Linked DNA regions of Homo sapiens: all the other regions are linked to region 5. The links come from fine-mapping of genetic effects on gene expression. A gene starts in region 5. Each other region holds a variant in brackets. All regions are shown on one strand. Distances are between the middles of the regions.

The links. PIP is the estimated chance that this variant, and not a neighbour inherited with it, causes the effect.
Region 1: its variant is the best candidate, but not a certain one, in a credible set for the expression of SLC5A4 in prefrontal cortex (CommonMind, PIP 0.61).
Region 2: its variant is the best candidate, but not a certain one, in a credible set for the expression of SLC5A4 in prefrontal cortex (BrainSeq, PIP 0.62).
Region 3: its variant is the best candidate, but not a certain one, in a credible set for the expression of SLC5A4 in visceral fat (GTEx, PIP 0.86).
Region 4: its variant is the best candidate, but not a certain one, in a credible set for the expression of SLC5A4 in tibial nerve (GTEx, PIP 0.69).

The regions. Positions count from the first base shown.
Region 1 is chr22:32,358,198-32,363,373 of GRCh38, reverse strand. RFPL3 (ret finger protein like 3) reads right to left here. Exons shown (of 2, transcript NM_001098535.1): 1 at 4,930-5,176; 2 at 2,213-3,122. The coding sequence ends at 2,542. It overlaps RFPL3S (RFPL3 antisense), which reads left to right. Exons shown (of 5, transcript NR_104232.1): 5 at 2,535-3,468. Among named protein-coding and RNA genes, the nearest start is that of RFPL3, 2.9 kb to the right of the region's middle. The variant T/C (reference allele first, on the strand shown) is at 2,954.
Region 2 is chr22:32,364,791-32,369,966 of GRCh38, reverse strand. It overlaps RFPL3S (RFPL3 antisense), which reads left to right. Exons shown (of 5, transcript NR_104232.1): 3 at 1,400-1,470; 4 at 2,253-2,277. Among named protein-coding and RNA genes, the nearest start is that of RFPL3S, 3.9 kb to the left of the region's middle. The variant T/G (reference allele first, on the strand shown) is at 2,842.
Region 3 is chr22:32,338,947-32,343,946 of GRCh38, reverse strand. It overlaps LOC107985561 (a long non-coding RNA gene), which reads left to right. Exons shown (of 2, transcript XR_001755500.2): 1 at 1-935. It also overlaps a transcript of SLC5A4 not described here. Among named protein-coding and RNA genes, the nearest start is that of RFPL3, 16 kb to the left of the region's middle. The variant C/T (reference allele first, on the strand shown) is at 2,013.
Region 4 is chr22:32,423,937-32,429,112 of GRCh38, reverse strand. The region is part of intron 13 of BPIFC (BPI fold containing family C); the gene reads left to right. Among named protein-coding and RNA genes, the nearest start is that of RTCB, 14 kb to the right of the region's middle. The variant T/C (reference allele first, on the strand shown) is at 2,280.
Region 5 is chr22:32,252,222-32,257,221 of GRCh38, reverse strand. It overlaps SLC5A4 (solute carrier family 5 member 4), which reads left to right and starts at 1,875. Exons shown (of 15, transcript NM_014227.3): 1 at 1,875-2,027; 2 at 3,009-3,080. The coding sequence starts at 1,893. All of the region lies in intron 2 of SLC5A4-AS1 (SLC5A4 antisense RNA 1), which reads right to left.

The DNA.
Region 1 (5,176 bases), 110 kb before region 5:
CTTCCCAGGTCTACGTGGCTCTAGTGGGATTGGGGTGCAGGTCCCTCACTACACCAGCCCTCTGCCTTTCTGTATCGTCTCACCTATGTGAAGCCATCGCCCACGCAGTCTTTCTAATCCATGTATAAAGTGCTCACTGAACTCCACGATCTTCCTGAGACCTAACTTTGATTCAGATGGCTCTGCTTGGAAGCCAGTAAACAATGGGATCAGAAGTTAGAACCAATTATCACAATTCTCCCTCTGGTCTTCTGTCAGTAACATGTCATTAGTTCTCTGCATTGCAAAAAGATTAACCAGGCTCTTCTCTGATAGAAATTTTAAGAAGATATAGCCTCTACACCAAGAGGCACATGACACAACCTGGACTCTGGGCAAACCACCGGGTGCACTCACATGAAGGTACCGTGGAAATTTATTAAGTTGATTTAAGAATAACAATTGTGGATTGTATTCAGTGTCCCATATGTTAGAAGAAGCTATAGAGGAGGTTAAGCCATATGTTTAAATGTGCCAAAATTTTTATTTGCCTAATCAAGAGGTATTGCTGAAATCACAAAATTAAATATACATTTAAAAGTCAATTTTGATTCACATTTAATAGTAAGACAATCTTTCAAACTAATCTCTAGACGTTACTCAATTGTTGAACATTATTGTGATCTCCCTGAAACAGTGGAGCTATAATTTTAAAACTGAATGTTTAACCAAGGGAGTTTTAGATTGACATAAAAATCTAGCATGTAATACACAAAGTTCCCACATCATTCTATTCTCTCACCCTACCTTATAATTCCACCTAATATTCATATCTTACATTACTGTGTTATATTTGCTAAAAGTAATGGGCAAATATTGATACATTAGTACCTAAAGTCTGTCATTCTCATAGTGTTCTTTTTCCTGTTACACATTTCTATGAATTTTGAAATATTTACTGTTATGTTTACCATTTCGATCTCGTAAGGAATACTCTCACCGCTCCAAAAATTCCCTCTTCTTTACTTATGAATCTCTGTCCTCTTTCTCCAGAAACCTTGCCAACTATTGGTATTTTTACCATCCCCTTTGTTTTGCCTTTTCCAGAATGTCATACAGTTGGAGTCATATATTAGATTGGTGCAAAGTAATTGCGGTTTTTCCATTCTTCAACTGGCAAAAACCACAATTACTTTTGCACCAGCCCAATATTATGTAGCTTTTTCAGCTGAACTTACTTCACTCATCAATATACTTAAAGTCACCCTGCTCTGCTGCCTGTGTGGTCTCATCCACATGAATGCATGCCCCCACAGTCTTTCTGATACATGCCATTGTCTTTTCTATGCTTTGATGGAGAACTCCTTTAAATCACAGAATAATATTGTGTTTTATAGATGGTTGTTTTTTCATTCACCTCTTAAACATCTTGCTCGCTTCTAGTTTGGGTGGTTATAGATAAAGCTGCTGTAAACATTCCTGTGCAGGCTTTGTGTGGACGTAACTTTTCATCTCAACTGAGTACGTACCTAAGAGCGCAATTTTCGGATTATATTGTGAAAATATGTTGGGATTCGTAAGAATTTGGTGGATTTCGTAAGAGAAATCATTTGGTTCTGGTGTTGTCTTTTTTGGAATGTTCTTAATGTTAATTCACTTAATAGGCAGAGGCTTGTTCAGATTGTCTGTGTTCCTAGTGTGACCTTGAGAAGATTATGTCTCTCAAGGAATTGATACATTTCACCTAGTTATCAAACTGTGGGAATAGAGTCATTCATAATAGTCCTTGATTATCCTTTTAATGACCAACAGTTTGGTAGATATGGCCCCTCTTTTATTTCTGATATTAGTAATGTGTGTTATCTTTTTTTGCTTTGTTAGCCTGCATATTTATTAATCTCTGCATAAAGATTTAATTATTAATTAATTTATTAATTTAATAAATTAATAAAATGAATTTATTAATTTTATTGCAATTACAATTAATAATTGCAATAACTAATTGGGGGGAATTTTCATTAATGCAGGAACACACATCCAGGAAAATGTTACCCACACTGAGCAATGATGGCGATAACTTTTCAGTTCTGGATAGGACATAGGCATTTATCCAGCTCTCCGTTCAAATACACACACACCCACACACGCACACACATACACACACACTCATGTTTTTACTATGAATAAAATCTATTGCACTCCTATCATTTAGAAAATCACATGATGCATTAGGTGATATCCAAATGTTTATTTACCTCATAACTTCTATAATTTAAACATTGATTTGAACTTACAGAAATGAAAAAGTAAAGCATTTGGAAATTGATCCGAGAATACAGAACATTTCTATAGGAAACAAGATGTGAACCATAAGACTCAATGAGTTGGATGGTGGCAATAATTAATACTTACGACTCAATAATCGAATCAAATTAGAATATAGATTATAGAAATGTCCCATATCTTTCTCCTATGACTGTATAATGCTTTTACCAAGTAGAAAATTCCTAAGTCTACCCACCCAAGTAATTTTCTGACCCTGTTTTTTTTTGCAGTGGCGGCTTATTTGGCCTCCCCAGGACGGACTGGAGCATCAGTAGTGCCTGAGTTCATCAAAGGACAGATGCTCAAGACACCTTGATCACCATTAGGTGGAATTGAAGGAGCCAAAAATGGGCGCAGTGGCTCCTCAGCAGAGACGCTCCTGAATGTATAGACATGGGAACCACTTTCAGCATCAAAAAAGGAAACGTTCTGCATGCCCATATCCAGAAAAATCCCCACTCGCTGTAACTTGCGGTCTACTAAGAGGAAAGTCAGCGGCACCGTGCTGGCAGAGAGGCGGCTTCCATCCCTCAAACTCACAGTCCAGAATCCAAGCTCTGTGGTCAGCTGGATCTTCCCTTTGCAGTGAACAGATTCTCTGCAGACTCCCAGGTCCCATTCTGTGCTTGTTCCCACGTCCACCTCCCAG[T/C]AGTGGCGGCCACAGGTAAAGCGAGGGGAGCCCAGGATGCAAACGGACACGTCAAATCTCTCGGCAAGGTCTTGCCGATTCTGTGTGATGAGCCCACTTCGGACGCTCCTGAGGTCGTCAGAAATGAGGAGGAAGTTGTTGGCTGTGTCGGCATCCAAGGTCATATCCACTGTGAAAAGGAAAACAAGTTGCTCAGCAAGTGGACAGAAGCCAACCCCATGCCTCTCTTCTACTTCAAAGGCCCAAATATCTCCTGACTTTAGTTTCTTTAATTCTGTTTCTTCCTCCAAAATCAAAACTTTTCATGAGGAAACTTCCCTATTTCAAATTTTCATAGGTATGCTTTGTGGCAATACGTGACTCTTATTCACAGTAGCAATTCTTATTTTACTTTACGTCACGTGTTTGCTTCACTGAACTTTTCTTCATTTAGAGTGGAGGGTCTCTGAAGGCAGACACCATGCCCCCCTTTCTACCACCTTGATGTGTGAACAAATAAATGATAATTAAGACAATGCAAGTGGTCAATATTAAATATGTTTCTGCTTCCACATTTTATTGCTCCAATTCAGTATATAGAGCATGATTCCAGGCTTTTGTTTTCCATGTTTGTAAACAAATTAATTGTGCACAGTTCTGACAGCAGATAGGGTATCTCTGCAGCTGACAATGTGATGACAGAGATGCTGGTCCTGGACATTAGGAGGCTCTAAGGCCAGGTGGAGGAGGGGGACCTTTTAGATGAAAGAATGTTTTCTATCCTACATGGAAGGTGAGACCTTAAGCAAAACAATGGTAAATTTTGGAGCCAAGAGAAAGGTATTTGAAAGTTGTCTGTCATAACTGACTGATTGTAGAGAATAAGGGCAGAAAATACAAAGGTCAATAATTTAAGGCATTGGGTATGTGACTGACAGGTGAAGCCGCCAATTCTCATGGAGGAGGCAGTGTGATCTGGCCTAGAGAAAATTAATTGTCCAGAACATTCTGAAAAAAAAAAATCTACAAAATATATTATCCTTCAAGTCAAAAAACTGATATGATCACTAATATAGATTTTATAGATCACAGTAAGACTACCCTAGTCAAGACTAGGGATTGATTGCTATTTAATGGTGAATTAGGGAATGGACATGGACAAGGAAGGAGGAAGAGGGTTCCAAACATGACTTGGACAGGGTGAATCTCTGTCCTCCATAGTTCAGCAGAGAGACAGTCAGGTATGGGTAGATGGATGAGTAGAGATCATGGGTGTCAGGGCAGAAGCTACCAGTGTCAGGGACATTATAGGGGCCCACCACCATTTATAGGTGTAATTCTTTGCCCAGGCTGACCATAACCTTTTCATTTAAATGTCCCTTTTCCCCAGAGTTATGGAGAGTGATAGTATTTTCTGTAGCCAGGACCACTGTTGGAGCCCATGGCGCATGGATGAGGAGACCAATATCTGCAACTCTCCCCACTCACAGAAACAAACACCATAGGTGCTCCATTCCCAACTCTTCTCAACCCTGGGGTGAGGTTGTTTGGTACAATGGGTGCCAATATTCACTGTGCATTAGAAATACCAGGCCCATCTTAATGTCAGATTCATGGGAACCTTTGCTAGAGAGAAATTCAAATTCAGTTGCTCTATGTTTTTGCTACTCAGCAAAGTCCCCAAGCCAGCGGGATCAATCCTGAGACTTCCCAGTTCAGCATCTGCATTTTAACAAGATCCCCAGGTAATCTGAGCACACTAAGTTTAGAGAATCCCTTGTCTAACCCATGACATAGACATCGGGTTTTTGTTTGTTTTTGTTTTTGACATCACCAGGTGATTCTATGTGTTGTCAGGGCTGAGAATGTGATGATGAAGCATCTCAATTTTAGGTGCCAGACAGCAGCTAATCCCCATGTGGAATGAGGGGCCAACTGCACAGATGATTTTTCCTGGTCTGGTCTTGGGAAGGGGGCAGGGTATACAGATTCCTTACCTTGGAACTTCCGCATCCTTGGGTTCATCTGTAGAATCTTCTTCAGCTTGGGCTCCAGTTCCTTGATGTGGGAAACCAGCCTCTCTAGCTGCCGATTGGGCCTGATTTTGTTCCTCTGAGAGACCATGGAACAGCAACAGCAAAGCAGATCCTCCCCATGGGGCTCCTTCTGCAGCGAATTGATGCACTTGAGGCAGACGGTGCATCCACACTCCAGGGACATTGGTTTTTCCAGATAGTCTGAGCA
Region 2 (5,176 bases), 110 kb before region 5:
AGTCAATCACCCAAACCACTTACCTTTCCAAAGGTAAATATAATCAAGTGTAATCATTTTTTCTCATCCAGAGAGTAGTTCATATTTCAACATACAAAGATAGAGAAGTGAAATGAATCGGTAAACACTATTAACCAAGAACATACAGATTTACTCACACCAGGAAACACGTAGGTCACATACATATATGTAAAGATACATTTAAAAATAATAAGATGATAATTGTACAAGTTTGCATATAAAGTGTAACTTTGAAAAACTGTTAATACTGTTTCTGATGGATTGTGTGACTTAGTTCTCCTGACCTATCCTTCAGAGTTCTTTCTAAGGAGGTTGTTCGTTCCATGACTTGGAAACAATCGAAAGTTAGAGGCACTTACATGTGTTAAGAATAAATAAGGCAGCTGGGCGCGGTGGCTCATGCCTGTAATCCCAGCACTTTGGGAGGCCGAGGCAGGCAGATCACCTGAGGTCAGGAGTTCAAGACCAGCCTGACCAACATGGAGAAACCCCATCTCTACTAAAAATGCAAAATTAGCTGGGCGTGGTGGTGCACACCTGTAATTCCAGCTACTCAGGTGGCTAAGGCACAAGAATCACAGAACACAGGATACCACTTCACAATTAGCCTCAGGTGTCACCCTTGTGGCAACTCTCCTGTACAGCTGGGTTAAAGAGCCTCGGTGCTCACATGGGGTCATCTCCTCACTCTGCCTTCCTTCACTGTGGGTAGCTTGGGCTGAAACTAGACCTCATATGGCTAGGTGAACTAGACCTGGCTGAAACTAGGCCCCCTCATGCAATGATTGCAAACACAAGGGATAGGAAGGGAAGACTAAAAGGAAGATCTTTGATTTACAGTGGATATTTTAACATGTATTTCAGTATTTTCCAGTTTTTAATAATTGATTTATAACAAAGAATTGAGTAAATATAATTAGCCCTGGTACCTGATATTGAATTTAGTTCCTCAATAAAAATTTACACATAAACAGGGGCTGAATCCTATACCCCAGATGTTAAATGTTACAGCAGCAGATGGGGGTCTGTGGAGGTTGAAAGGGAGTTGGTCAATATCAAGGAGTCAGTGGCAGTTCTGCTGGACTTTAAAATGGGCTGAGGGAGTGACAGGACTCTGTGGTTGAATTCTAGCATGCATTTTAGTAGTTGCTCATTTGAAGTTTGAGTATTTCGTGTCGCTTTCATCTGCTATTACCTGGAAAGACAAAGGCTCTATTTCTCATTTCCTTTCTGCCCGTCTCTCTGCCTTCCTTGGTCCATAGAAGAGGATGGCCCAGGAGAAGCTCAATTCATGCTTGTTAACCAACCACATCCATAAGTTCTAGCCCTTTGTTCATGTCACCACCAATGAACTGACAGTCATGTTGTGTCCTTTCAGTTCCCCCAGAAGATCAATGGAAGGTGGATTCCAAAGAGTGGGCAAGTGAGGACCCCTTCTCTGTTACCAAGGTAAAGTAGCCTGTCTTTGCCTAACATGTGTGTAATTTTCTTGGTTATTTCATTTTTCAATTGATATCAGATAGAGAAAAATGATCAGGTGCGTTATAGGTGTTAGATGATGTTTCCTTGGGGATGGAGGGGTGCACCCCACCCACTGACACCTGATTGAAGAGGACATCTGGAATTGGCAGGGCTGGGTCACACACAGCATGTTAGGGGACACTTTCCTCTGCAACAAGCTTTCCACTTTAGATTAAGTATTTTGTAACTGCTACTTCAAAATGGTCTTGACAAAGATTTTTTTTTTTTTTTGAGACGGAGTCTTGCTGCGTAGCCCAGGCTGGAGTGCAGTGGTACGATCTCGGCTCACTGCAAGCTCCGCCTCCCGGGTTCACGCCATTCTCCTGTCTCAGCCTCCTGAGTAGCTGGGACTACAGGTGCCCGCCACCACATCTGGCTAATTTTTTTTTTTTTTTGTATTTTTAATAGAGACAGGGTTTCACCATGTTAGCCAGGATGGTCTCGATCTCCTGACCTCGTGATCTACCTCCCTCGGCTTGCCAAAGTGCTGGGATTACAGGCGTGAGCCACTGAGCACGGCCAACAAAGATACTTTTCAACAAAAGCTATTGTGCTTTCTACAGATGAACTCTACTCTAGATGTTGGGGCTTTAGACTTAAACATTCTTTCCCATCTTGGTTACCAAGAGCCCCTAAGAGAACGAAAGACCTGTGCAAACAGCCCACAGTATGATCTCATCCTCAGAGTGTTTTCTTTCTTCTAATTGCAGGTGACCCCAAGGAACACAGTAAATGGTATGTATTCTGGAATCATTCACCAGGTGTAAAAAAAAAAAGTGTATGTATAAGAAATGTGGAACTTAATTGCTGACTTTCATCTAGACCATCTCCATGATCCAAGACACCTGGAAAGAACGAGAATTTGGGGTGAACTAAAACTGGTTTTTCAGGTGACAAACTCTTGTCACCTATGTGCAATCCCTGGAAACAGGCATATTCACTTTAGGTGGGGTGGATTTGTGTGCACCAAGGCAGAAGGTGTCTATGTGTAGGTCTGTGTGATGTGTTTGTGAATGTGTGTCTAACACACAGGTGAGTGCAAGCTTAAGGGGTCTGCACACTCAATGAACTTACACACAGTATTGAAAGTAAGACTGGACTTCATTATTTATACATTTTCAATATATGGTCTCTGTAACATAAAATTAATGATGTAATACCATAGAATATTTCCCTAGTATTGAATCTTGTCTCTCAATATTGAAAGAGTTGCTTAAAAGCACATGAGAAGTGCTACTCAACACATGATATGTACTGTAGCTGCAGTTAAAGCATTCATTTGGGAAGTTATAAGACTTA[T/G]GACTAAACTGATGACTTATGCTCTAAACTCAGGCATGAGCTTTGTAAGACAATTGAAGGGGAGGATAAAAGACCTCATTTGCCTCCTCTCTTCAGTGGTTTTATGTGCCTTGTGGAGTGTGGTTATGTGCCTTGTGGAGTGCAGTTACACAGGAAGTTGATGGAGTAAACACAAAAAAGAATTGAACAGGTTAATTGAATCCATAAGACCGTGGTGAGGTTAGTCAATAAGACGGGTCATTTATTTTTTAACTTTTATTTTATTTTTTATTTATTTATTTTTTGAGACGGAGTCTTGCTCTGTTGCCCAAGCTGGAGTGCAGTGGCACGATCTCGGCTCACTGCAAGCTCCGCCTCCTGGGTTCACACCATTCTTCTGCCTCAGCTTCCCAAGTAGCTGGGACTACAGGCGCCCACCACCATGCCCGGCTAATTTTTTGTATTTTTAGTAGAGATGGGGTTTCACCGTGTTAGCCAGGATGGTCTCGATCTCCTGACCTCATGATCCACCTGCCTTGGCTTCCCAAAGTGCTGGGATTACAAGCATGAGCCACCGCGCCCGGCACAATTTTTTTTTTTTTTTTTTTTGAGATGGAGGCTCACTCTGTCGCCCAGCTCCATCCATGTTCCTGCAAAGGACATCATCTCATTCTCTTTTATGGCTGCATAGTATTCCATGGTGTATATGTACCACATTTTCTTTATCCAGTATGTCATTGATGGGCATTTGGGTCTTTGCTATTATGAATAGCGCTGCTGTGAACATATGTGTGGATGTCTTTAGGGTACAATGATTTATATTTCTTTGGGCATATAACCAGTAATGGGATGGCTGGGTTGAATGACATTTCTGTTTTTAGCTCTTTGAGGAATCACCACACTACTTTCCACAATGGTTGAACTAATTTACACAGTCTCTAAGAGTATATAAGTGCTCCCTTTTCTCTGCAACTTTGCCAGTATCTGCTGTTTTTTGACTTTTTAGTAATAGCCGTTCTGACTGGTGTGAAATGGTATCTCATTTTGTCCCACCAGTTTTTTTAACTGTTAAGTTCAGGGGTGCATGTGCAGGTTTGTTACATAGGTCAACTTGTGTCATGGGGATTTCTTGTGCAGATTATCTTGTCACCTGGGTTTTAAGCCTAGCGCCCATTAGTTATTTTTCCTGATCCTCCCTCCTCCCACCGTCCCCCATCCGATAGCCCCGTGTGTGTTGTTCAGCTCTGTGTGTCCCTGTGAGATTGGTCATTTTTAGGTCAAATTTTACATAGTATGTTCTTTATGTGCTTTCTTCTAGAACTTTCTATGTTTTATTAACTAGGCAACTGTTGCTAAAATCTCTACTAAAAGTGGGCACATCTTTATAATAACAAATAGAAGCTTGTAAAGTTGTGATACCTTAAATTTTGCCAAGTTATGAGGGCTTTGCCTGAGACCTGGATGACAGAGTTGTGTAAGAATGTGGGTTCCTCTGAAGACTGTTGAATTTTCTGAGAATAAAGATCTTATTTGTTTCTATTACATAGGGTTAAAGCAGGGACACGGTGGTCTCTAAGGCACATAGGAGGCTCTGAGAACGGAAAATGAGATCTTTCCAAACAGTAATGCAAATCTCCATTTCTGTATTTAGGATCCCTCTGAGAGCAAGCAGGGGTTCACAGAAGGATATAGCTCACTAAGAGAAACAAATAATGGGAAACACAGGTTTATAGCATTTAGAAGAAAATACCAAGATGAACATATTAATATCTAAAGTGAGTTTTGATGAAAACAATATAAAAATTTTTAAAACTCAAAATGTAAATATCAGGACCATGTGACTTACTTTTATTTCTACCAAATAATAAAGACTGGCAATCCTGGGCACACACTTCCAGAGAATACACAGCAAACACAGCCATAGTGCTTTATCATTTTAGGAGAATCTTGATTCCACTCCTGCAATAATAGACTTGACTGGAAAGTGGAAGGACAGAAACATTCCTCTGAATGTGGAACCCAAAATCTGAAAACAAATGTTAGTGATCTAGAGGTGGACTTAAAAAAATAGGATGAAGAGTGGTATTTTATGAGAAGACTTTCAGAGGGCTCACGAGAGAGAATCAGTGGCATTTTCACTGGTGAAGGATTGGGAGAAGAGGCAGAGCCATTGGGTTAATGGAAGGGACATCTGGAGTCAGAGGGAAAGGGGGATCAGAGTGAACCTTGAATGAGAGTCCTGGGGCAGAGTCCTGGGGCAGAGGTTTCCAGGCTGTGGCTATGGAGGGTTTTTTGTTTTTTTTTTTTTTTGAGACAGAGTCTTGCTCTGTCTCCCAGACTGGAGTGCAGTGGCGCG
Region 3 (5,000 bases), 87 kb before region 5:
TGTGGGTGGAGATATACACTAAAGACTTACTTATTAGATCTATAATGCCAGGGATGAGTTCAATATAACAAACCAGTGGAATGATTCTGCTTCTCTTCTGACTCACTCCTTAAAATGTGTATTGAACAAAGGTGAAGTAGAAAAGTTGTATTAGCATTGTTTTATTTTGCATGACTTAAAATGTGCTTTTCTAATTGATAATTTATCTAGTGCTGCCTCAGACTTGATAATTGGGTTCATCAACAGAGCCTTGAAAAGTTTGGGTAGAGACCACAAAAATGTAGTAGCTATGCATGAAGATTAGCTGATAGTTTATCCGTTAAGACTGCTTATGGATGTAAGCAATGAAAATCTAACTAACAGTAGCTAAGAGAAATAGAGATTTATGTTTTCATGTAGCATAGAGTCTGGAGGTTGGCAGCCGACAACTCTGTGATGCCATCAGCAACCCTACTTTTCTCCATTTCTTAAAATGGAAGATTCTTAGAGTGTTGCTTTTACCGTGTTGTTTTTCTCATCATGCCTCCATCTGCCATCATATCTCATCTGCCATCCAGATAGGAACAAGGGAAAAGGACTAAGGAGGAAAAAGGCAAGGAGATATGTCAGCTGATTGTCCTTTTCTGTCAGGTTAGCAGTGTCTTCCCCAAAGGCCCCATCTAGCAGATTTCTGACTATGTCTCTATGGCCAGAACACACCGTGGCACACATTCATTCTAAACTGGAAGATGGTTAGGAAAAAGGAAGGTGTGGGGGTGTGAAACCACCTGCCAAAAGTGTCACAGTTGTGACCAGTTTATTTCACAGTTTGAGATGACATGGTCATAAAGACCTTTGTCACCTTCAGAATGCAGCAAAGCATGAGAGAGTATTAGAAGGCCGCTGAGAAAGACAAACAAGTTTTAGGATTACAGAAGTATTCAACAACCAACCATGTAAGATCTGAAAGGGATGATTTTTTCAGTTCTGTGTTTGATTAAATACTCAACTGTACAGGAGCCATGGCTACATGGCAGGGATTGGGGGAAAAAAGACAAAACTTGGAAATAGCAGTTGTCAACAATGTGATCTAGCAGCCAAAAAGCTAGTTTTCTCATGCTCTGTATTAATTGAAGTGAATATTTTTTGACTCTAATTTTGAATATGCCATTTTGTTCTGATGGGTGTTTTCCTCTCCAGAATGTTAGCTGGCATGTTTGGGAATCCAGATTTGAATCAGAATTATTATAATATTGAATAACTTTTATTGGGAAAGTATTTTCCAGTGGACACTATTAAATAAGCTTAATTTTAAATTAATTTCATATGAAGTAGAAGTAAATTACTTCTAAGTATTGCTTAAATAAGCTTAATTTTTAAATTAATTTTATATGAAGTAGAAGTAAATTCTAAGTACTTCTATTTTGATTTTTAATTTATTAAGATTATTAACTTTCACAAAGAAATTTTGGGTTGTTTTTGTTTATCTTAAAGTCTGTGGATTTCAGCTCCTGCTAGTGGTTTTTTTCTCTCTATAGTTATATCTACCAGGTCTCATTCACATAGATTAGTTATTACAAATCTTGATTATTGTCAAGATTTGCTTCTTCCATCATTATTAGTTACAGATTTTATTCTGTGTGGTTTTAGGCTTCTACAATGTTACTTGGTGTTGTTTCTACCAGGTCTAATTTTTCCTGGGTCAAATTTTTTTGTGTTCTTTGAAATCAAAAGGAAGAGGTTCTCAAGTCAGTTCTTACATCTAAAGCAAACTTCATGTTTTAGTTATAATGTGTAGCATTAGCCATTTGTGTAGCATTAGCCATTTTCAGTTTTATTTTATGCTAATTCCTGCTACCATTTATTTAGCACATAGGGTTTGAGTTTGTATCATATACCAGGGACTGTACTAGCCACTGGTGATACATTGGTGAACAGAGCTTACGGTCTGCCTGGGGAGACAAAGAAAATAAAATGCTTTTGTAATAACAATAAAATTTCAAGTAGTGTTAAATGTCGGGGAGAAAATGAAG[C/T]GATCCAGGGAGATCTCTCTAACGAGAGGCAATTTAAGCAGAGACCTGAATATGCTCTTTACTCACATAGTTTCATGGTTCACTCAGGTGGAGGGAGTGAAATGTAAAAAGGGCATGAGTTGAAAACACGCTGGGTGTATTTGGAGAACAGCAAGAAAGGCAGCGTTAGGCAGAGTGCATTAGCAGAAGAAGTGTAGGAAATGAAGAGGTTGGCAGGGGCAGAACATAAGGGGCCATTTAGGCCACGGATAGGACTTCAGAATTACTCAGTTGTGGCAAGAAGCATTTGGTAGGTTTTGAAGGATGCTCTCCGGCGTCACGTCCGTGAGCCTTCCCCGCTGTTCACGGCTCTGTTGAAGACAGTGCTCTGCTGTCCCAGGATTCACGGTCCACTGGACTAAGCACTGGTCAGCCAGGGGAGGAGGAGCCAACACAAAGAGTTTCAGTGGATGAGTAGCTAGGAGTTCACCAAAGTGGGGAAAGGTCATCCCGGCAGAGAGGGCAGCATAGGCAGAGCCTCGGAGGAGGGAGGGGCTGAGGGGAACTGGGGAGCCCTGGGTCCTCTGCCCCACAGGCTCCTGGCCCCTCACGGCCGCCCTTCTTGCTCCTCTTTGCGGCTCCATCCTCATCTCCCTGATCTTAGAGACCAGGGCTCTTCCCTTTAACTTCTCTCTCATCTCCACCCACTCCCTGGGGACCCCCACCCAGACCCACAGCTCCAATCCTGTCCACCTCCCAGTCTTTCTCCCCTGGTCTCTCTCCCTTGAATCCAGACTAGCTGTTCATTGCAGAGCCTGAGTCCTCAAGAGCAGCTCTTGGATACCCCATAGACGTGGGAGACTGGCACATCCACGTCCCCGCTGCCTCCTACCATCTCATTGGCTCCTCTCTTTCTTTCCTGTTTCACGTGTTCCATCAGCAATACCTTGAAAATGAAGCCAGAATCCATCCGCACCCACCCCTCCACTGAGACCAGCCCTCCTTGTCCGTCGTCTTTGGCCAGGATGGAGGCAGCCGCCTCCGCATGTCTCCCTGATGCCAGCCTGTGTCCCCGACAGTGGCAGGGCGATCTTTTAAAAACATTAAGTCAAGACGTGCCGATGGTCTCCTTTGCACTTAGGAATCAAAATGCTTTCCTTGGCCAACAACATGATCTGACCCCACCCCACCCCACTGTCCCTCTGTCCTCATCTCCCGACACTGGCACTTGGCTGCAGCCGCACCAGCCCCGCTGCTGTTCCTCCAACCAGACCTCTCCCCTCCGGGATACCAGCAGGGCTCATGCCTCCCTTCCACAGCCCCTGCTCAGGGTCACCCGATCAAAGGGGCCTTCTCTGACCAAGGTTTACAAAATAGAAGCAGCCACCTACTCCCGTCACTCTCCCTTTGTCCTCCTTCAGCTGCCTTGTCACGTGCGTCGCCGCCTGACATAACGTTTGCTTTGTGGCTTTGTGCCTGTCTCCTCTGCTGGATGGAAACCCCAAGAGAGTTGGGATTGGTGTTTCTTGTGCTCAGCTGTGACCCCAGCATATAGAACAGTGCCTGACACATAGTAGGTGCTCAGTACATCCATGTTGCATGAATGAATCTTCCTGCCCAGTGCCTTGTGCACAGAAGGCACCTAGACAGTGTCCGATCAATGAACTGCATTAGTACCGTTAGTAACAGTAGCTCCCATTTGTTGAGGGCTCACTGAGCTAAGCAGCTGTAACAAATTGTGCCATTTAGCCTCCCCAGCTGCACTGCAGCTTGGCCATCCCGAGCCTCATTTTATGAAGGAGACACCGAGGAGGCTCGGAGAGAGATTCCTGGGAAACGCACAGCAGCTGAGCTGGAATTGGAACTAAGGTCTGGTGAACTCCAAAGCCGACATCCTTCTACTGGGAAGAGCAACTTCTCTGCCTTTACTTCTCTCCCTGTGAGAGCTAAACCTGAGATGATGCCACTCTATGCTGGGTGCATAGCTGCCCTGTGGTTGTGGGTTCTCTGTGCAAGGCAGGTCTCACCCATCCCCAGGGCAGAACCTCGGGGGTCCCCGAAAGCACCTGAGATCTGGCCCGCAGGTGTCAGTGAAACAAGTCCTGGTCTGGGTCCAGGAGCCTCCTGAAACTCAGCCTGGCTTCTGATCTGCCATTGGCCCCTTCGTGGGCTACCAGGCAGGGGTTTAAACGAGGTGAGGGTGCCAGTCTTTGTTGGGGTGCATGGTTGGTTTTGCTCTCGGGGTTTGTCTTTTCCCCTGCACCATTTGTGAAGGTCTTTCGCAGCCTTGAATCTTTCCAGAGGCGGCAGGTGTACTCATCTCTTCCACCTGGTGGCTCCCCACCTCCCTCTGCAAACCACTCCCCACAAGAGGAGGGCCCGGCGGAACAGAAGGTAAAAACACAACACCCACGCTTAGTTTTCATGAGTTTACGTCGAACACCTCCTAGCTGTACTCTACTCTAGCAAACCCGCAGAGGGGTGAGCTGCGTAGTCTTCGAATCAGAGCTGAGTTCAGATCCTGTCTACGGGCCAGTGGGCAACTGCAGGTAAGCCAGTAGCTCTCCTGAGTCTCAGTGTTCCCATCAGTACAATGGACACAAGTAGCCTTTAGGTTGTGAGATGATTGTAAGGACTGGAACAGAGCCCGGCCTGTGGCAGATGCCTCAGGAAATGCTAACTGTGATGATTGTTGCGACCATTATTTGAAGAGTAAAAAATAGGAAAAGAAAAGCCGCTACGGATCCCACTCACACGCAGCTACGACTGCTTTGCGTTTTTCTCCCTTCTAATGCACACCTGCTTTTGCGCGTCTCTAATGATGTGCCTTGATTTTATTCTCCTATTGAATCAGCGATGACCCTGCGATTTTACCTGACCTTTCTAAATACCATTTCAGCGGCCACCGAGTTGTCCGGATTCCATGTGTGGGATTCATGCAGTCATTTCCCTACAGCGGGGCATTTATACTGCATGTAATCTTTTTAGTAATACGATGACAACACCAAT
Region 4 (5,176 bases), 170 kb before region 5:
ATTGTATAAAATAGCTTTGCATCTGGAAGAGGAAAATAGCTTTGCATCCGGAAGAGGAAAATAGCTTTGCATCTGGACAAGGAAGTGAATCACAAAACTGAAAATGAAGAGTTGTATTAGGATATGGGATTATGAGAGGGTTCTTTTTTCATTAAAATTTTCTTTGTAAGTATATTGTTTTTCCAACAAAGGGAATATAATTTTGTTTTTTTTTGAGATGGAGTGTTACTCTGTCACCCAGGCTGGAGTGCAGGGGTGCGATCTCGGCTCACTACAACCTCCGCCTCCCGGGTTCAAGTGATTCTCCTGCCTCAGCCCGCCAAGTAGCTGGGATTACAGGCGCCTGCCACCACACCTGGCTAATTTTTGTATTTTTTAGTAGAGATGGGGTTTCACCATGTTGGCCAGGCTGGTCTCAAACTCCTGACCTCAGGCGATCTGGGGCCTCGGCCTCCCAAAGTGCTGGGATTACAGGCGTGAGCCACCATGCCCAGAAATACAATGTTTTGTTTGTTTGTTTGTTTGTTTAAAGTAGTATGGTTTCCCAGAAAGAAAAGGTTTTACGAAGGTTTACTCGCATTTACCAAGCCCTTCAAAGCAGTCCTGACTTCTTCATTAGCTTCCTTTAGGCACAATAGGCACAGTGCCTAGAGCCACAATACTTTAAAAGCCCATGAGAGGCCGGGCAGGGTGGCACACACCTGTAATCCCAGCACTTTGGGAGGCCAAGGTGAATGGATTGCCTGAGCCCAAGAAGTCGAGGCTGCAGTGAGCTATGATCTCAATCTGGGCGACAGAGCAAGACCCTGTCCAAAAGCACACACACACACACACACGCGCGCGCACACACACACACACACACGTTTTAATGTATTTTAAAATAATAATTTTTAAAAATGAATACAATTTAGACTTGATCATACTTATCTTTATATCAAATAGTTATAAAATATAATTTTCATTTTTTTTAACAGAAGAAAGGTCCCCAAAGACAAAAGTGCCTCAGGCCTCCAGAAGTCATGAGGTGACCCCATTTCCAGGGAATCAGGCTGATGAAACTCTGAACCATGAAGAGTGATCTTTATCTGGCAGTTCTTTTTTGTTTTGTTTTGTTCTGTTTTGTTTTGAGACAGAATCTCGCTCTGTCACCCAGGCTGGAGTGCAGTGGCACGATCTGGGCTTACTGCAACCTCTGCCTCCCAGGTTCAAGTGATTCTCCTGCCTCAGCCTCCTGAGCAGGTGGGACTACAGGCGCACGCCACCACGCCCAGCTAATTTTTGTAGTTTTAGTAGAGACGGGGTTTCACCATGTTGGCCAGGATGGTCTTGATCTTTTGACCTCGTGATCAACCCACCTTGGCCTCCCAAAGTGCTGGGATTACAGGTGTGATATTTGGCAGTTCTAATACAGAGGATGAAAGCCAGAGAGCATGAGGGTGAGGGGGGAAGGAACCAAAGGTGAGAAATTGGCAGCATCTGAGATCGGCCACGAGCGGAAGGAAGGAGAGAATCTGGATAGCATTGCCTGAGCATCGGGACCGTGATGCTCAGTCTGTTGGGAAACAAAGAGGAAAGAACCAGGAGGAAAGGAAAGGCTGGAAATGGGGAGTGATGCGGGGCGGGGCACAGGGGCAGGGCTGCTAACTGAGGCAGAAGGTTCCTAGAGAAGGTAGAAACAACACTTGCATCTGAGCAGGTGTCTGGTTTACTGGCAGGATCTCAAGGAAGAATTTAATCATGATTCAACTTCAGGGTTGTGGCAAGAAGGTGCAAAAGACTTTAAGAAGCATGGAGACCAGGTTCACTTTTCTGCTTAAATCAAACTGAGCCTTATCTCTAATGTTTCTATAATACTAGTAAGCAACAGCACGTTCAATGGCTGTTATGTTTATTTATGGGAGTAATAGAAAAAACTGTTTTAAGCCGATAAATTTACATCATCCCGGAAATGTGTGAATTCATTCTCTTGGCTTCCTACAGTCCACAGAGTTCTTTGACCTCATGAACATGAACCCTGAAATTAGGACCTCTGGCTTGTTGTCTGTTGCCCAGCAGTCTCCTGGAAATTCTCCGCTGGGCAGACTTCTGGTGCTCTGATGCCTTAGCTGGGTCTGAGCAGGGCTGGCTACATAATTTGCAGGGCCCACTGCAAAATGAAAATGCAGAGCCTCTTTTCAAAAGGATTAAGAATTTCTTTTTTCTTTCTTTCTTTTTTTTTTTTCAGACAGAGTCTTGCTCTGTTGCCAGGGCTGGAGTGCAGTGGCACGATCTTGGTTCAC[T/C]GGAGCTTCTGCACCCCGGGTTCCAGTGATCCTCCTGCCTCAGCCTCCTGGGTAGCTGGGATTACAGGCGTGTGCCACCACACATGGCTGATTTTTGTATTTTTAGTAGAGACGGGGTTTCGCCATGTTGGCCAGGCTGGTCTCGAACTCCTGACCTCAGGTGATCCACCCGCCTCGGCCTCCCAAAGTGCTGGGATTACAGGCGTGAGCCACCGTGCCTGGTCAAGAATTTTAAGATAGAGATGGCAAGGCATTAAACCAAGCACAGGGGGCTTCTAAGCACAAGTGAGGGTGTCTCCTGCATGGGGTGTTATAGCAAACCTCAGGCAGTGAGCAGGCTGGGGGCAAGGCAGGTGGGCTGGGCCTCACTCAGGTTTAAAGCAGCCAAACCAGGAGGCAAGACTTTGCAGAGGAGCCAAGGCTGTGTTGAAATGACAGCCCTGGGCTCTGGCAGTAGGATCCCTAGCCCTGCCTCCCATGCAGGCTGCCCCAGCTGGCTCCTCCACTCCTGGGCTCCCCAGGCTTTTCAAGATGAGCTGGTTTGGTCTTGGGTGATATCAGAGAGATGCAGCAGGAAAAGGATCAAGTGGGTGGAGATCAGTGGAACATCCCTGAGAAGAACCAGGGAACACGGGGGCTCCAAATTACTCTCCCCAGAACAACATGGCCTCTCTAACTATCCCCTGCCTGAATGTGCCTCTTCCTGGAGCTGCTCGGGGCTGGCTGCATAGACAGCAAATACAGAAATCAGAGACAAACCCCGTGTTGGTGGTCTAGACAGACTGTAGGATCACAGGCTTTGGAGTCAGACTAGCTGGTCTGGTTCTGATCCCAGTGCTGCCACTAATTAGCTCTGGCATCTCAGGCGAGTTTCTTAACCTCTCTTGGACTCCATTTCCTCCTCTGTAAAATGGTGTAATAAAGACTACTTCAGGAGAAGGTTGTGAGAAGTATGAGAGTTAATACAGGTAAAGTGTGTGGTTGCCATTCAATAGCTCTGTGATCTTGGGTGTAAGTTATTTAATCTCCATAAAGCATAAAACGGGAATAATAGTACCTACCTCCAGGACCATTCATTTAATCTATTGACCATTATTGTGCACTGTTCCAGGCCCTGGAGACACGGAGTTGTAAGGTTTAAATGAAATGACAGAGGCACCGGGCTTGGCACGGGACCTAATAGACGGTAAAGGCCCAATAATAAAGAATAGTCATGAACTGTACCAAAAAAAGACTATTTCTTAGCTGTTGGCTTTGACTATGATTTCAAATTTAGAGATAGCCTCAGCCAGGACAAGGAGGTGCTCAATCGTACAAGATCATTTCCAGAGTCCCCTGATTCAGAATACACTTCGCTCCCCTGTATCCTGCCCATGGATAGCTAAGAAATAGTCCTTTTTTGTATAATTCATGGCTATTGTTTATTATTGGATCTTTGTCATCTACTAGGTCCTGTGCCAAGCCCAACACCTCTATTATTTCATTTTAAATCTTACAACTCTGTGTCTCCAGGGCCTGGCACAGTGCTCAATAAATGTCAGTAGATTAAATGAACGGTCCTAGAGGTAGGTACTATTATCCCCATTTTACAGTTTGTAGAGATTAAATAACTTACTGAAGGTCACAGAGCTATTGAATGGCTGAGCCAGAACTTGAACCTGGGTGAGTCCGCTTTCAAAGCAGTGAGTATTTACTTACCACAGTATACTGCCTTTGATGTAGTGAAGAGCTTTGACTTAGAAAATAAGGCAAGGCCAGGCGTGGTGGCTCACGCCTATAATCTCAGCACTTTGGGAGGCCGAGGCAGGTGAATCATCTGAGGTCAGGAGTTCGAGACCAGCCTGGCCAACATGGTGAAACTCCATCTCTACTAATAATACAAAAATTAGCTGGGCATGGTGGTGCATGCCTGTAATCCCAGCTACTCTGGAGGCTGAGGCAGGAGAATCGCTTGAATGCAGGAAGCGGAGGTTGCAGTGAGCCGAGATCACACCACTGCACTCTAGCCTGGGCGACAAGAGCAAAACTCCGTCTCAAAAAAAAAGGAAGAAGAAGAAGAAGAAGAAGAAGAAGAAGAAGAGGAAGAAGAAGAGGAAGAAGAAGAGGAAGAAGAAGAGGAAGAAGAAGAGGAAGAAGAAGAGGAAGAAGAAGAAGAAGAAGAAGAAGAAGAAGAAGAAGAAGAAGAAGAAGAGAAGAAGAAGAAGAGGAGGAGGAGGAGGAGGAGGAGGAGGAGAAGAAGAAGAAGAAGAAGAAGAAGAAAGAAAATAACACTTAAGATTTAGGAAATAAATACCTTTATACCCTTGCCTGGAAGAGGAAACCCATAAGCATGGAGTCACGCTAAGTTGAAACAGGCAGCATGCCCTTTTTCAATATTCAGCATTGATAAAAGAAAGAGAAAACACTGGAACTGGTTGTGCTGAAATAGAAAAAAACACACAGCACTTTTGTCACCGCATCAAGGAATCAAGGGGAGAAAATGGTGAAGAAAGTAAAAAACTAGCAATTCTAATAATACACTTGAACTCTTTGAGCATGTCTAGTTAAGAGCACAGTCTCTGGAGTCAGGCATATCTGGATTTGAATTCTACCTCTGCCACTTGCTACCTAGTGACCTTAAGCAAGTTACTTAACCTCGTTAAGTATCAGTTTCCTCATTAGCAAAACAGAACACCCCTCCATAGGGTTGTTGTATGGGTGGATGAGATAATGTATGTAAATCACTTAGCACAACAGTCAGCATATAGTCATTGATCCAGAAATATTTGTTCCTAGTAGTACTAGTATTTCATTCTTTTTCCCCATTCTAAGATCAAATTTTGACCAAATAACAGGGAGAAACTGATCCCAAGAGACATGACAAGTCAGGATGGTTTTTAAAGCTGTGGAGTTTTAAA
Region 5 (5,000 bases):
TATATCTCTCTCCAAGAAGATGCACAAATGGCTATAAGCACATGAAAAAATCAACACTACTAGTGATTGTGTTAGAAGTGTAAATCAAAACTATATTGTGATACCCACTTGATACCTACTAGCCTGTCTATAATTAAAACATAAATGACAAGTATTGAAGAGGATATGGAGAAATTAACTCTCCTATGCACTGTGGAAAGAATGTAAAATAGTGCAGCTGCTGTGAACAACAGTTTGGCAGTTCTACAAAAAGTTAAACACAGAATTATCACATGCAATTCCACTTCTACATATAGACTCAAAAGAATTGAAAGTAGGGATTCAAACAGATCCTTGCACACCAGTGTTCTCAGCAGCATTATTTATAATAGCCAAGTATAGAAAGAACCTGAATGCCCATCAACAGTTGAATGGATAAACAAAATGTGGTATATATGAGTATTGGAATATTATTCAGCCTTAAAAAGGAAGGAAATTCTGATACATGCTACAATATGGATGAACCTTGAAAATGTCATACTAAGTGAAATAAACCAAAGAGGAAAATATTGTATGATTTCATTTGTATGAGGTACCTAGAATAGGCAAATTTATATAGTAAGAAAGAATAACAGAGGTTACCAGGGCCTGGAGAGAGGGAGGGATGGGGAGTTAGTTTTTAGTGGGTACATACTTCTGTTTGGAGATGATGAAAAAGTTCTGGAAATGGATAGTGGTAATGGCTGCATAACACTGTAAATGTACTTAATGCCAATGAATTGTACACTTAAAAGGGATTAAAATGGTAAATTTTATGCTATGTATGCTTTGCCACAATAAAAAATGAAGTATAAAAGAAGAATTTCTGGGCTTTCCGTTTTTTCATGTGTGTTTTTGGTTTTGTTTTTTTGTTGTTGTTTTTTTTGTTTGTTTTTGAGACAGGATCTTGCTCAGTTGCCCAGGCTAGAGTGCAGCGGCGTGATCATGGCTCACTATAGCTTTGACCTCCCAGTCACAGGTGATCCTCCCTCTTCAGCCTCCCAAGTAGCTGGGACCATACGTGTGCATCACCACACTCAGCTAATTTTTATAGAGACAAAGACTCCCTATGTTGCCCAAGCTGGTCTTGAACTCCTGGCCTCAAGTGATGCTCTCTCCTTGGCCTCCCAAAGTGCTGGGATTACAGGTGTCAGCCACCGCATAGGCTTTACTTCTAACTTCTTCTTGGCTGTAGTCCAGGAGTCTTGTTTCCTGAGTCCTCATGATCCCCATCACATGCTTCCAGGTTGATTCACTCTTTGTACAACCCTCTGACCCAGCGCTCTCCACAGCTCTGCCCTCAACTCACCACATATGGTGCTTGAAGAGCCACTTCCTTTCCTATACAGGCCACCAATGTCTTTTTGTGGCACATGAAACCCACTTCAGAGAAATGTGGGACTTTGGAATCCACGAAAGGCATAATTCACTTCACTGTCAAGGGATATAGCTCATTGGTCAGAAACTGTATCTGTTCTCTGAAGGACCATTGCATTCGGTCCCTCCTGGCTGGTTTCTGGTACCTTCTAGTCTGTCCTTCTCCCCTCCTTGTCTGTCTTCATTTCTCTCAAATCCCCCCTCCACCTGGGCAAATCTCTTTAAAGACCCTGTCTTTGCACTCAGAGAACGCCCCATGCTCCACCTCAAATTCTCCCCTCATTTCTGGCCCTGCATCCCTCATTCTCACACTCTACCTAGGCTAGCACTCACTGGTGGAGGGCTGGGGTGCCACAGCTTTGGAGAAGAGGTTTAAAGGTCTCCATATCCAGGAGCTGGCTCTGATATCTCGCCCCACCTGCCTGAGGCTGATCATTAACCCAGAACTTATATAAAGATGGCTCATGCGTGGAATGGGTATAGCACTGCCTGCAGCCATGGCCAGTACGGTTAGCCCCAGCACCATAGCTGAGACCCCAGAGCCACCTCCATTGTCTGACCACATCCGAAATGCTGCTGACATCTCAGTCATTGTCATCTATTTTCTGGTGGTGATGGCTGTTGGGCTGTGGGTAGGTGGAATCCCAGTGGCTTTTAGGGTGGGCACAAGGTTTAGGAGGGGGTATCTTAAGGGGGGAAGGGGTGTGGTTGTGACAAAGCTTTTCACAAATGTCATTGTGTTATCAGAATCATTTTCTTGTGTGTTGCATAAATAACGCTTACAATGAACTAATGTATTCTCCTAATAACCCCATCGTGTGCACACAGCCAGCACCGGGACCTTCAGATTTACTATGCATCCCCAACACCTGGCATAATGGACAAAGAGTGTATTTTTATTATCGCATTTCTTTCGCTTTCTTTTGTTGTTTGCTCACTTTCTGATTTAGTGAGTTGGACTCTTCATTTATGTTGAATTTTTTTATTTTAATAAATTTGAGACTGCAAATTTTTTTTTTTTTTGAGACGGAGTCTTGCTCTGTCGTCCAGGCTGGAGTGCAGTGGCGCTTGCTTGGCTCACTGCAAGCTCCGCCTCCTGGGTTCACGCCATTCTCCTGCCTCAGCCTCCCAAGTAGCTGGGACTACAGGCATGCGCCACCACGCCCGGCTAACTTTTTGTATTTTTAGTAGAGACGGGGTTTCACCATGTTGGCCAGGATGGTCTCGATCTCTTGACCTTGTGATCCACCCGCCTCGGCCCTCCAAAGTGCTGGAATTACAGGCGTGAGCCACCGTGCCCGGCCGAGACTGCAAATTTTATTGCAAGCATGGCTCAATGATACCTCACATGGTTTTCATAAGTGAGAATAATCAGAGCAGTTAAGATAGAAGTTAAGGATTATGATTTTTTTAAGTTCTTCCAGCCCTGGGTTTTTACAAAGCGACTGTTTTTGAAGTCCTTTAAAATTTGATGCTATAGAACACTTTCCAGCGAAATGTTTCTCTCTGTAGGAGTGCTGAAGTCACCCCTCTCAGCACCCTGGCCAGAGCCTCTGGGGTGTCTGGGTGCACTTGCTGGGGCTTGACCCTCACCTGTCTTCCCTTCTGCTCAGGCGATGCTGAAGACCAACCGAGGTACTATAGGAGGCTTCTTCCTCGCTGGTCGTGATATGGCCTGGTGGCCGGTAAGTGGATCGAAGTTTTCTGGAGATAAATTTCCTGTGTGTGTGCTTAAAACTGAATGTAGGCTGGGTGCGGTGTCTCACGCCTGTAATCCCAGCACTTTGGGAGGCCAAGGCTGGCAGATCATCTGAGGTCAGGAGTTCGAGACCAGCCTGACTAACATGGTGAAACCATCTCTACTAAAAATACAAAAATTAGCTGGACGTGGTGGTGTGTATGCCTGTAATCCCAGCTACTCAGGAGGCTGAGGCAGGATAATCACTTGAACCTGGGAGGCAGAGGTTGCAGTGAGCCTAGATCACACCACTGCACTCCAGCCTGGGCAACAAGAATGAAACTCCATCTCAAAAAAAAAAAAGTGAATGTAGACAACATTGGGAATGTTGATCATTTCTGATGTACATTGGTTGCCTACTCGCTGGGGCTCCTTTCCTAAATCCCCGACTTCATGGCTCCTCTCTGTAATTCCAGGACATTACAATATGTCACCTATTATGACAGCCGGTTCAGTCTGGCACTGAAGGACCCCAGCTCAGCCCCACCTTATATTCTTTTCTTCTGCTCCTTATCAAGAGTCTTCTCCTGGCTTCTTACAAGCTCTGCGCATTCCTGCTTTGTTGCCAGTCCTGAGCTGATGCTGGCCCTCTTGTTAGGATTGGCCTCCCCTTGTCTGCTGTCCTCTTTCAATGCCTCACCTCAGCCCTTTCTCATCTGAGGAGCCTCCCGGCTCTCTCCATGGGTCCCTATGTCCCATGCAGTTATTGGTTGTGTTCCCTGTGATGGTGCTAATGCTGATGCCTCTTGATTCTTGCCCAGTGGGTGTTCTTGTGGGGTTTTGATGTGTGACCCCCTCAGCCAGGGTCCCACTGCAGCAGAGGCTGTATCTTCCCCTCTGCACCTGGAGAGTGTCAGCCCAGCATCACATTATACAGTGGGTGCTTAGCAAATGCTTCCTTCACAGATCTGACTCATTTTCTAAATGGTATGAGGGGAAGTGGAGATGGGCAACTGTCCTGGCTGGGGTGACTGAAGCAGAACAACTGGAAGTTTGAAATGAATTTTATTTGGGACATCCAATCAGACATTGCATTTTTAGGACTGTTTAGTGAAACATGCAAGGAGGCTCAAGCGATCTTGAAGCCAAAAACCAGCTCAATCCCATCCTCTGGCCCCATGTAGCTGAGCAGAAAAAGTGATTTTACAGAGGCCTTAAAAAGTGGGAAGAGCCACACCCCAATTCTCTTCTGCTAGGACTGGTGCTCATCTACGTCCACTCAAGAGACCTCTCTTGGTCTCTGGGTCTTTAGAACAGCAGACACTGTAATGGCGAGGGGATGAATGAAAAGAGTGTCCTGTGGCTGGGAGGATGGAGAGAAACTCCCTCCTAGCCAGCTTGGGGTCTTTGCATATGATTAAAGGGAGAAGAGCTGATGGGAGATCTGGCAGTGCTTGGCCAAGGACAGGCTCAACTCAGAGCATTTTAGTAGATTGACCAATGCTCCCCCAAGACAGGGGCCAACGAGCTTTTCTGTAAAAGGCCAGATTGTAAATACTTTAGAGTTTTCTAGACATATAGTCTATTGCAGCCACAGAACCCCGCTGTTGTAGGACAAAAAGCAGCCCAAGTCCATATGGAAAACCAATGAGCACGGCTGTGTTCCAGACAATGAAATTTGAATCATACAATTTCACAAGTTTACAATTTCACATTTCACAAAATATTATGCTTACTTAGATTGTTTACCATTATTTAACAATGCAAAAATGTAAAAAAACATTCTTGGCTCGTGGGCCATTCAGAAACTGACTGTGGGCTGGATTAGCCCAGGGGCCATTGTTTGCTTGACTCCTGCTCTGAGGAGTAGTGACTGAAACATCTCAGCATCTGTCTATTTTCTTTTTTTTTTTTTTTTTGAGACAGA